Linked DNA regions of Homo sapiens: region 1 is linked to region 2. The links come from fine-mapping of genetic effects on gene expression. A gene starts in region 2. The other region holds a variant in brackets. All regions are shown on one strand. Distances are between the middles of the regions.

Evidence for each region.
Region 1: its variant is fine-mapped to the expression of SDHC in whole blood (INTERVAL, PIP 0.97).

The regions. Positions count from the first base shown.
Region 1 is chr1:161,415,343-161,420,721 of GRCh38, forward strand. It overlaps the pseudogene COMMD6P1. Among named protein-coding and RNA genes, the nearest start is that of TRE-TTC4-2, 4.1 kb to the right of the region's middle. The variant T/C (reference allele first, on the strand shown) is at 3,037.
Region 2 is chr1:161,311,712-161,317,090 of GRCh38, forward strand. It overlaps SDHC (succinate dehydrogenase complex subunit C), which reads left to right and starts at 2,670. Exons shown (of 6, transcript NM_003001.5): 1 at 2,670-2,714. The coding sequence starts at 2,695. RefSeq lists enhancers at 2,246-3,009, 4,536-5,297 and silencers at 2,561-2,620, 2,651-2,720.

The sequences.
Region 1 (5,379 bases), 100 kb after region 2:
TGCCTTCATGCCTGGCTAATTTTTTTGTATTTTTGTAGAGACGGGGTTTCACGATGTTGGCCAAGCTGGTCTTGAACTCCTGACCTCAGGTGATCCACCTGCCTGGGCCTCCCAAAGTGCTGGGATTACAGGCATGAGCCACCGTGCCTGGCCTAATATTTTTAGAAATAATATGTATATTTAAAAAACAGACTAAATATACAAAACTGGGTGCATTGTAGGGGAGAGGAATTGGTGTAAGAATGGGAGATGAGGAGAAAATAATGAGACAATATAACAGAACAGGGATCTTACCCAATCAATGATTATAATGAGCAATAGGGCTGGGCGGGGTGGCTCATGCCTGTAATCCCAGCACTTTGGGAGGCTGAGAAGGGTGGATCTCTTGAGGTCAGGAGTTTGAGACCAGCCTGGCCAACGTGGAAAAATCCTGTCTCTACTAAAAATACAAAAATTAGCCAGGCATGACGGCGCATGCCTGTAGTCCCCACTACTCAGGAGGCCGAGGCAGGAGAATCGCTTGAACCTGGGAAGCAGAGGTTGCAGTGAACCAAGATCATGCCCTTGCACTCCAGCTTGAGTGACAGAGTGAGACTCCATCTCAAAATAAATAAATAATACATAAATAAATAAAGTGCAATAAACTGAGGGAGATGATTGAATCAATTTTGTGTGCCCGTGAGTGATAAGAGGGAAAAAAAGTGAAAGTATACAATACCTTTTGGGAGAAATAGAAGAGGACTGACTGGGGTGAAGATATTCACAACATAATATCAAAACTACTCCTACAAATCCATGAGACAAAGACAACTCAAGAAAAACATGTATTTTGGCCGGGCATGGTGGCTCACCCTTGTAATCCCAGCACTTTGGGAGGCCAAGGCGAGTGGATCACTTGAGGTCAGGAGTTCGAGACCAGGCTGGCCAACGCGGTGAAACCCCATCTCTACTAAAAAATACAAAAGTTAGCTGGGCGTGGTGGCTCATGCTTGTAGTCCCAGCTACTCAGGAGTTTGAGGCAGGAGAATCATTTGAACCCGGGAGGCGAAGGTTGCAGTGAGCCGAGATTGTGCCCCTGCACTCCAGCCTGGGCGACAGAGTGAGAATCCTTCTCAAAAAAAAAAAAGAAAAGAAAAAGAGAAAAATATGCTTTTTTGGCTGGGCGTGGTGGCTCACGCCTGTAATCCCAGCACTTTGGAAGGCAGAGGCGGGCGGATCATGAGGTCAGGAGATCGAGACCATCCTGGCTAACATGGTGAAACCCCGTCTCTACTAAAAATACAAAAAATTAGCCGGGTGTGGTGGTGGGCACCTGTAGTCCCAGCTACTCTGGAGGCTGAGGCAGGAGAATGGCGTGAACCCGGGAGGCGGAGCTTGCAGTAAGCCAAGATGGCGCCACTGCACTCTAGCCTGGGTGACAGAGCGAGACTCTGTCTCAAAAAAAAAAAAAAGCTTTATATATATATATAAAAAAGCTTTTATGTATATAAATATATTTTATATATATAATTTTATATTATATATAAAAATATATTTTTTATATATAAAAAAGCTTTATATATATATATATATATATATATATATATATATATATATATATATAAAGCTTTTTTTTTTGAGACAGAGTCTCACTCTGTCACCCAGGCTGGGTGTATATATATGTATATTCTCTCTCTCTCTCTCTCTCTCTCTCTCTCTCTCTCTCTATATATATATATATATATATATATATATTTTTTTTTTTTTTTTTTTTTTTTTTTTTTTTTTAGACAGTCTCACTCTGTCGCCCAGGCTGGAGTGCAGTGGCATGATATTGGCTCACTGCAACCTCCACTTCTGAGGTTCAAGTGATTCTCCTGCTTCAGCCTCCTGAATAGCTGGGATTACAGGCACAAGACACCATGCCCAGCTAATTTTTGTACTTTTAGTAGAGATGAAGTTTCACCATGTTTCACCATGTTGGCCAGGCTGGTCTTGAACTTCTGACCTTAAATGATCTGCCCACCTCGGCCTCCCAAAGTGCTGGGATTACAGGTGTGAGCCACCAGCCTGGCCTCTAGTTATTTTTTACATAATGTTCAGCATACAATAAAAATTAGGAGACATGTGAAGAGAAAGGAAAATGTGACCAATGGTCAAGAGAAAAAAGAAAACAGTAGAAGCAGAAACAAATATAAGCCAATTGTTTAAGTTCACAGGCAAGAACTTTAAAATAATCACAATTTTATTTTTAAAAAATAGAGGAAAAGATGGAAAGTAGATGAGAAGAATTTCAACAGAGAATTGGAATAGAGACAAAAACTTCTAGAACAGAACCCTCTGAATGGGTTTAACAGCAAATTGGACACAGCAGGAGACAAGATTAGTGAATTCAAAGACAGATCAATAGGCTGGGCACTGTGACTCACACCTGTAATCCCAGCACTTTGGGAGGCTGAGGCGAGTGAATCAGCTGAGGTCAGGAGTTTGAGACCAACCTGACCAACATGGTGAAACCCTGTCTCTACTAAAATACAAAATTAGCCGGGCGTGGTGGTGGGTGCCTGTAATCCCAGCTACTCTGGAGGCTCAGGCAGAAGAATCGCTTGAACCCGGGAGGCGCAGGTTGCAGTGAGCCGAGATCACACCATTGCACTCCAGCCTGGGCAATGAGTGAGACTCTGGCCTCAATACAGAAAGAAAGAGAAGGGAGGGAGGGAGGTAGGAAGGAAGGAAGGGAGGAAGGAACCAACCCATATTGAAGCACACACACGAGTTGAGCCTGAGACCTTGGTCAAGAACCAAACCTAACAATACTCTGGCTAAAGAGTGAGGGGACTGTGGGCATGGGGGAATGCCTCCCCACAGATTCCCATCCACGACCCTTGGCCTGATGACCACAGCATCTCAGTAATGCTTCTGTAGTCCAGTATCATTTCTTCTTTCTGAAATACATACATACATACATACATATATATATATATATATTTATTTATTTATTTGTTTATTTTTTGAGGCAGAGTCTTGCTCTGTCACCCAGGCTGGGGTGCAGTGGCA[T/C]GATCTCAGCTAACTGCAACCTCTGCCTCCCGGGTTCAAGTGATTTTCCTGCCTCAGCCTCCCAAGTAGCTGGGATTACAGGCATGCACCACCATGCCTGGCTAATTTTTGTATTTTTAGTGGAGATGGGGTTTCACCATGTTGGCCAAGCTGGTCTGGAACTCCTGACCTCAAGTGATCTGCCTGCCTCAGCCTCCCAAAGTGCTGGGATTACAGGCATGAGCCACTGCACCCGGCCTGAAATACATGTTTAAAAGAAAAATGTTGATCGTTTACTCAAAGGGGTAAATTAAGAATGGTAGTGAGCTCCTAATATCGCTAGCCACAATTCTCAAGGGAAGCAAATGGGGAGGCCAAACATCTGGTTGCTAACCTCATCAGCACCTGATGGGTAGGGAGGCTGCGCGAAGGCTGATGTCCACTGAGGAATTCTGAAATGCTCCTTAAGGGGACTAGGCCCACCCATGTTGAGAATCACTAATGTATACTTGTGTTTAATTTTTTCTCTATTTCTTCTTCTTTTTCTTTTTTTAAGAGATGTTATGCTATGCTACCCAGTCTGCTCTCAAACTCCTGGGGTCAAGCGATCCTCCTGCCTTGGCCTCCTGAGTACGTTTAATTTTGCCACGGAAACATGCAGTCTCTCAGGAATATTCTAAATCTAGAATGGGTGGATTAGCACAGTCATAGTATTAGTAATTAATAAAACTTTCCCCCACTTTGAAATCCTGAAAGTAGTTAAAATCATGGAGTTCTAGGCAGTCCGGTATTAGCAGCCCTTGACCTTTGCATTGGCAGCTGTCACCAGGTGTTTAATGTGGCTTATTAGGGAAGTCCAGAGCCAGCCAATACTTTACTGAGCTTGTAAACTCATAATCCGTTTAGATTTTTTTGTAAAATAAAAACCATATATCTATATGGTAACGAATTGGTTAATTGTAAGCCAGGAAATAAAATGTATAAACAAAAGTGAAGTGGTAACAAATTAGTTAAATGGCAGGGGGATCAAATCCAGATCTGTCAGGACAGAAGGGAATACTCACCAACTATGCTAATGAGGAAGGAGATGAATCTAAAGTCAACAACATCTCCTCTAACTGCCCACTTTTACACTGGGCCCAGATAGGTAGGAAGCATTGATTGCTCATGCCCCATTTGCTCCCAGGCCACCACCTAGTCTGACCCTTTGCTGGCAGGACAGAGCGAGAGGCCAGCATCAGAGTGGCCATTTGTGAAAATGCCAGAAACGTTGTCTACTCTCCACCCCACCCCATCTCCCACAAAACTCACCTGTGCCATGCAAGACTGTGGCAGATGGTTGGAATTCCAGGCGCTACTGCTCTTCATCCTTCTAGGGAGGCAGATGTCAGGGCAGAGGCCTGGGAAGTGTGAGGCTGCTGGATCCAAGAGTGGGGGCAGGTGGAGCAGAGGTGAGGTTTGGCCTTTTGGAAGCACTGGGTCACGAAAATCCAACCACGTGCTTTGACCAGATTCGTTTCCTGCTCAGATTCTGGATTGAGGAAGGCGGGGAGTGAGACCATGGCAAAGAATTGACTAGGAAGAAGCTGTCACCCTTGATGGAGTGGGCAAAGAGAAAAAGCAATCATTTGGGCATAGGGCCCAGCTGGACTCCTGGGTGGAAGGTGTGGCCTGGGTGTTCTTGGGTTCCTTGTCTGCTTGAGCCCCAGAACAATAGAAAATCTTGATGGCCACAGCAACAGGAGCTTAATAGTGGGAAGGAAGAAAAATGAAGGACAAAACCAAGACTTAAACTCCCACTGGGAAGTTTGAGAAAAAAGCCTTAACCACTATACCAAAAATGTACCCCAGGAAACTGATCTTACCTTCTGGTACCAGCATCAGCTACATAAATTGTCGGGTCTAGTGCAAAGTGAAAATGCAACCTCTTCTGAAAAAAGCAGCAAGAAAAGTGCTGTGAAGAGTAGTGAACTATAAAGCTTTTTCCTTTCTTCCATAGTCCTTCCTATGATGGGGCTTTTTATTTGCTCTTATTTGTCATTCTATGTAAAGAAAAATTAAGAATTTAAATAATTAGCATGATTTTTTTTTTTTTCCGAGACAGAGTTTTGCTCTTGTTGCCCAGGCTGGAGTGCAATGACACAATCTCGACTCACTGCAACCTCCACTTCCCGGGTTCAAATGATTCTCCTGCCTCAGCCTCCGGAGTAGCTGGGATTACAGGTGCCCGCCACCATGCCTGGTTAATTTTTTATATTTTTAGTAGAAACGGGGTTTCACCATGTTGGCCAGGCTGGTCTTGAACTCCTGACCTCAGGTGATCTGCCCACCTCGGTCTCCCAAAGTGCTGGGACTGCAGGCGTG
Region 2 (5,379 bases):
GTTTGTTGAGGCAGTCTCGCTCTGTTGCCCAGGCTGGAATGCAGTGGCATGATCATGGCTCACTGCAGCCTTGACCTCTGAGGCTCAAGCAATTGTCCTACCTCAGCTTTCCAAGTAGCTGGGAACTACAGGCGCATGCCAGCATGCTGGGCTAGTTTAAAATTTTTTTTTTTTTTTTTTCAGAGATAAGGTCTTGCTCTGTGGCCCAGGCTGTAGTGCAGTGGTGCAATGATAGCTCACTGCAGCCTCAACCTCCCAGGCTCAAGCGATCCTCCCACTTCAGCCTCCAGATTAGCTGAGCCACAGGCAGCCACCACCATACCCAGCTAATTTTTCAATTTTTTGTAGAGATGAGGATCTCACTGTGTTGCTCAGGTTGATCTTGAACTCCTATACTCAAGTGATCCTTCTGCCTTGGCTTCCCTAAGTACTGGGATTACAGGTGTGAGTCACCGTGCCTGACCTCTAGAAGTTAATGTAAGTGGGGTGGTCATTGTTATTCCTGCTATGAGACCACTGCAGGCTCACCCAGGTGAAGGACAGTGTCCTGGTACCTTCCTGGCATCTCATTAGACCACAGCCCTGGTGGGTATGGTCATTAGTATTAGATTTGGGTTGTGGAATTCTAAATATGGGATTGCTTATGAAGTCCATAGGCAAAACCATCATCATTGACAAATGTTTACAGGATGTTGTAGTCAACATTTCTATAAAACAGCAATTCAAAGTACAAAAAAAAAAAAACCCCCAAAACTCTCCCCTCCAAAATTTCCACCTAACTCCACCTCCCAACTGTAAGCAATCATTTCCTCTTTATCTAACCACCCCTTTTATCAACACCCTCTTCAATGGGTTGTTGCTACTTTCTTTGTTGCATGTCTTTATTGATCCTGCTAAGGCTATAACCTTCTTGGGGACAGTACAAACATCTGTATCTTTGAATCCCCTACAGAACTTTTCACGGACTGACAAAAAGTCCATAACTACATGCTAAATGAAATTATTAATATTTAAAGAGCTGAGTGGGCTGGGAGTGGTAGCTCGCACCTATAATCCCAGGACTTTGGGAGGCCGAGGCCGGTGGATCACTTGAGGTCAGGAGTTCTAGACCAGCCTAGCCAACATGGTGAAATTCCATCTCTACTAAAAATACAGAAAATTAGCCGGGCATGGTGGTGCAGGCCTGTAATCCCAGCTACTTGGGGGGAGGCTGAGGCAGGAGAATCGCTTGAACCTGGGAGGCAGAGGCTGCAGTGAGCTGAGATAGCGCCACTGCACTCCAACCTGGGCGACAGAGTGAGACTACGTCTCAAAATAAAAGAAAAAGAAAAAGAAAAAGAAAAACCAAAAAAGATCTGAGTGAAAAAGGCATTCCTTGGGTTTGTTAACGTGAAGCTCCAGAGAGCCAAGTCAATGACTGGAATTTCGATAGCACAAAACTGTATTTAAATATAATAACTAACGAATAAGTTGTTCATTAAATAAAACTTGTTGTTTGAGGTACCCATCATTGAATATGGGGGGGTAGAGTCTTGAAGATCAGCTGTTATGGGTGTTGCAGAGGAGATCCCTGCATAGATAGTAGATTGGATTAGAGAGCCTCTTTCAATCCTAAAGTGTACGAATGTGCTTTGTCAAGCATTATAGAAATGCAAAGTAGTATTATTCATCTGATGCAGAAATAAGTGAATTTGTGCTATTTAAATCCTGAAGTGCAGGGATGCTAAATATACATAAGATCTGAATATTAATATAATTGAGTATTTTTTTTGTAGAAATAGGAGTTGCTCTAGCCTGTCCCTTTTACTCCTCTCCACCCTACTCCCCACAAGAGTCAAGAACTTTTGTGCTCTGTTCCCTTCCTTTATCATTTGCTCTTCTTCTTTCTTCAGTCTTGAGTGCTCGGCAGTTGATTCCTGTGCTTGGGTTCCCTAAAACTGTATATATATATATACACATATATAAATCAAAGCGTGTTCTTCCCCTCACTCCGGGTTCTTCTAGCTGTGGGTGTCACCCACATAGCGCTGAAACAACGAACAAGGGAGCATTGTCCTCGGCTAGTGGGCGCCTGGTCCATGTGGCAGCTCAAACCCAGGAATTGTGGGGTCTAATCGAGGTGGTTAGATGAGGCTCCTCGTTTTCGGGAATGGTGGTCCGCAAGGTCTTCTCGAGGCCCCTCTACACACTCCCCAACTTAGGTCACAATTTATGTATCTGTCTGGTTAAAGCTTCGTATTAGAAAGGGAGGGAACCCAAAGTATCTTTTCTCTTCGGGGTCTCAACCGGCCAACCACCACGTTTTTAGGCCGACCTGGGAGGCAGGGGGAACGCAACAGACTGCGAAGTCCTTAAGGAAGAATCTAAACAAGTCCGCCGTTTGCTGTTTGGGAGTGCGATACAAAATGAATATGTACGCAGGTGGAACGTAGACTGCAGATTTTGAGCCAGCGGCGTTTCTGCCGAAATCCTGGCAAATTCCGGTAGAAGTCGGCTGCAGGAGGCGGAGGAGGAGACTAAAAAACCAGAAAACAACCAGCAAACCAGCTAGGCAGAGCTGAGCGGAGAAGCTCCAGAGCCTTTTAAAGAGACTCTCGTCACATGACACCCCCAACCCCGACCCCCAGCCGGCGCGCCTCCGCCCTCGGGTGGCGGGGCCGCCTGGCGTCACTTCCGTCCAGACCGGAACCCAAGATGGCTGCGCTGTTGCTGAGGTGACTTCAGTGGGACTGGGAGTTGGTGCCTGCGGCCCTCCGGAGATCTGAACTGGCCCCTCACGTTTTGCTGATAACTGTTTATCCTGTGCCTGGGCAGGGAAAGGACCCATGGGTGTGGAGGCCAAGCGCTCGGGGATCCTAGAGACCCCTTTTCCCGTCCCCCCCAGCCGCTCCGGTGCGCTCCGTAGGGCTTCGGGGTCACTGACTTCGTATCGAGGGGCCCTCGGCTCTCGCCCCTTCTGTTTTCCCCACCTCCTCTAGTACTTCTAACGCAAATTGCTCTCGGGCCTGCACCCAGAGCCGAGCTCTGAGAAAATAACTTCAAGGTCAGCCACCCATGGGTCCTACGATTTCGAGAGCGTATTTAGACATTTAGCTTCGGAGAGAGAGATCTTCGTGTATTTTGCCTTTGCTTCGAATGCCTTCAGACACTAGCTGCTCCCACCGTGAGTGGGCGCTGTCTGGGTTCCCAGCGGGCTGCTGGCAAAGGGTGGATCCCTACTGGGGTGGCGATTAGCATTAGCACCCAGGGCGGACCTCTGCTGCCCCAGAGCAACCCGGGGAATTCATTTTTAGTTAATCATTTTACTTGGGAGGGAGAGTGAGTGTCCCAGTTTTTCTCTAAAATGTGAATTAGTTGTCCAGAGAAATACCCTAGATTTTCTTTCATTCTGAACTTTCCGCTGTCTAGGTCTCATTCTCTGCTCAGCCTCTCTAGTCACAGCGACTAGCGCCTTTAGACACGCCTGGTACAAATCCCAGCATAGTTTTGTGCCAGCCTTATTTTTGGAAATTGTTTGTTATGGAAAGTTAGCTTCAATGCTGTTGAGATTTCAATCCCTGATTTCCCCAAATGTGTTCTCATTTCTCTTTCCACTTCAGTCACCCAGTTTAAAAATAGAGGGACTTTGTTTAGTTTTTCTGTGACAAAATGATTCCTCTTGGAGTTGAAATCAGGGTTATCTTAATCCTTCATTTTCTCCCTGTTTTTCATCTCCATATGTATCTTCTGTCTAAGGTATGCCAAGGCTTGTCTTGCCAGTGCTGTCTTCTTTATTCCAGATGGTTTGACCATAATTGAATGCTTTTGAATTCTCTGATATATTTTGGTATCGATGTTAGGGGCTTTTGGTAAAATTAACATTTAGTTTGAAGTGATCATATTGGTTCCAAACAGTTCATTTTAGGAGTTTTGGAATTAGTGTTTAAAAGCTGAGGATCATTATAGTCATTAAGTGTATCCATACAGTATCATTTTGAGTTGTGCAGCGCTGTCCACTGAAGGGATGGGTCGCCCCTCCACACCTGTGGGTGTTTCTCGTTAGGTGGAACGAGAGACTTGGAAAAGAAAGAGACACAGACAAAGTATAGAGAAAGAAAAAAGGGGGCCCAGGGAACCGGCGTTCAGCATACAGAGGATCCCCGCCGGCCTCTGAGTTCCCTTAGTATTTATTGATCATTATTGGGTGTTTCTCGGAGAGGGGGATGTGGCAGGGTCATAGGATAATAGTGGAGAGAAGGACAAAGGTCTCTGCATCATAAGGTAAAGAATTAAGTGGTGTGCTTTAGATACGTATACACATAAACATCTCAATGCCTTGAAGAGCAGTATTGCTGCCCACATGTCCCATCTCCAGCCCTAAGGCGGTTTTCCCCTATCTCAGTAGATGGAATATACAATCGGGTTTTACACCGAGACATTCCATTGCCCAGGGATGATCAGGAGACAGATGCCTTCCTCTTGTCTCAACTGCAAAGAGGCGTTCCTTCCTCTTTTGCTAATCCTCTTCAGCACAGACCCTTTACGGGGGTCTGGGGGACGGTCAGGTCTTTCCCTTCCCACGAGGCCATATTTCAGACTATCACATGGGGAGAAACCTTGGACAATACCTGGCTTTCCTAGGCGGAGGTCCTTGCGGCCTACCGCAGTGTTTTGTGTCCCTGGGTACTTGAGATTAGGGAGTGGTGACGACTCTTAATGAGCATGCTGCCTTCAAGCATTTGTTTAACAAAGCACATCTTGCACAGCCCTTAATCCATTTAACCCTGAGTTGACACAGCACATGTCTAAGGGAGCACAGGGTTGGAGGTAGGGTTACAGATTAAAATGGAGTCTCTTATGTCTGCTTTCTATACGGACACCTTAACAATCTGATCTCTCTTTCTTTTCCCCATAGTCCACACTAGGATTCAATGCCAAGAAAGGTATATTTTTCATTAGTGGTAATCTGAAGCTCTCGTGGAAAGGACACCTCCATTTCTCATAAGGGATTTTTTTAGGAGGATAAATGAGGAATTAAAAATTTTTTTTTTCTTGATAGAAGTTCCCAGTCTAATTCCATTTCACTAGAGGGATTTGGAACTGTTTATAATGTGCTGATTTAACCTCAAAGGAAAATACCTTCTGAGAAATCCTAGGAGCTGATTTCTGGTTCTACATTTATTTTGGACAAGTCAAGGTCATTGATTCCATGATTTTGGTTTCCTCATTTGTGTTGCAAACGGCAATAACTTGGGCCCACTTAAGAGAAATATTGGTTAAACTTTTCTTTTTGTTCTTTTTTTGGGGGTCTCTTTTTTTTTGGTTCTTTTTCTTTTTTTTTTTTTTGAGACGGAGTCTCGGTCTGTCACCCAGGCTGGAGTGCAGTGGCACGATCTTGGC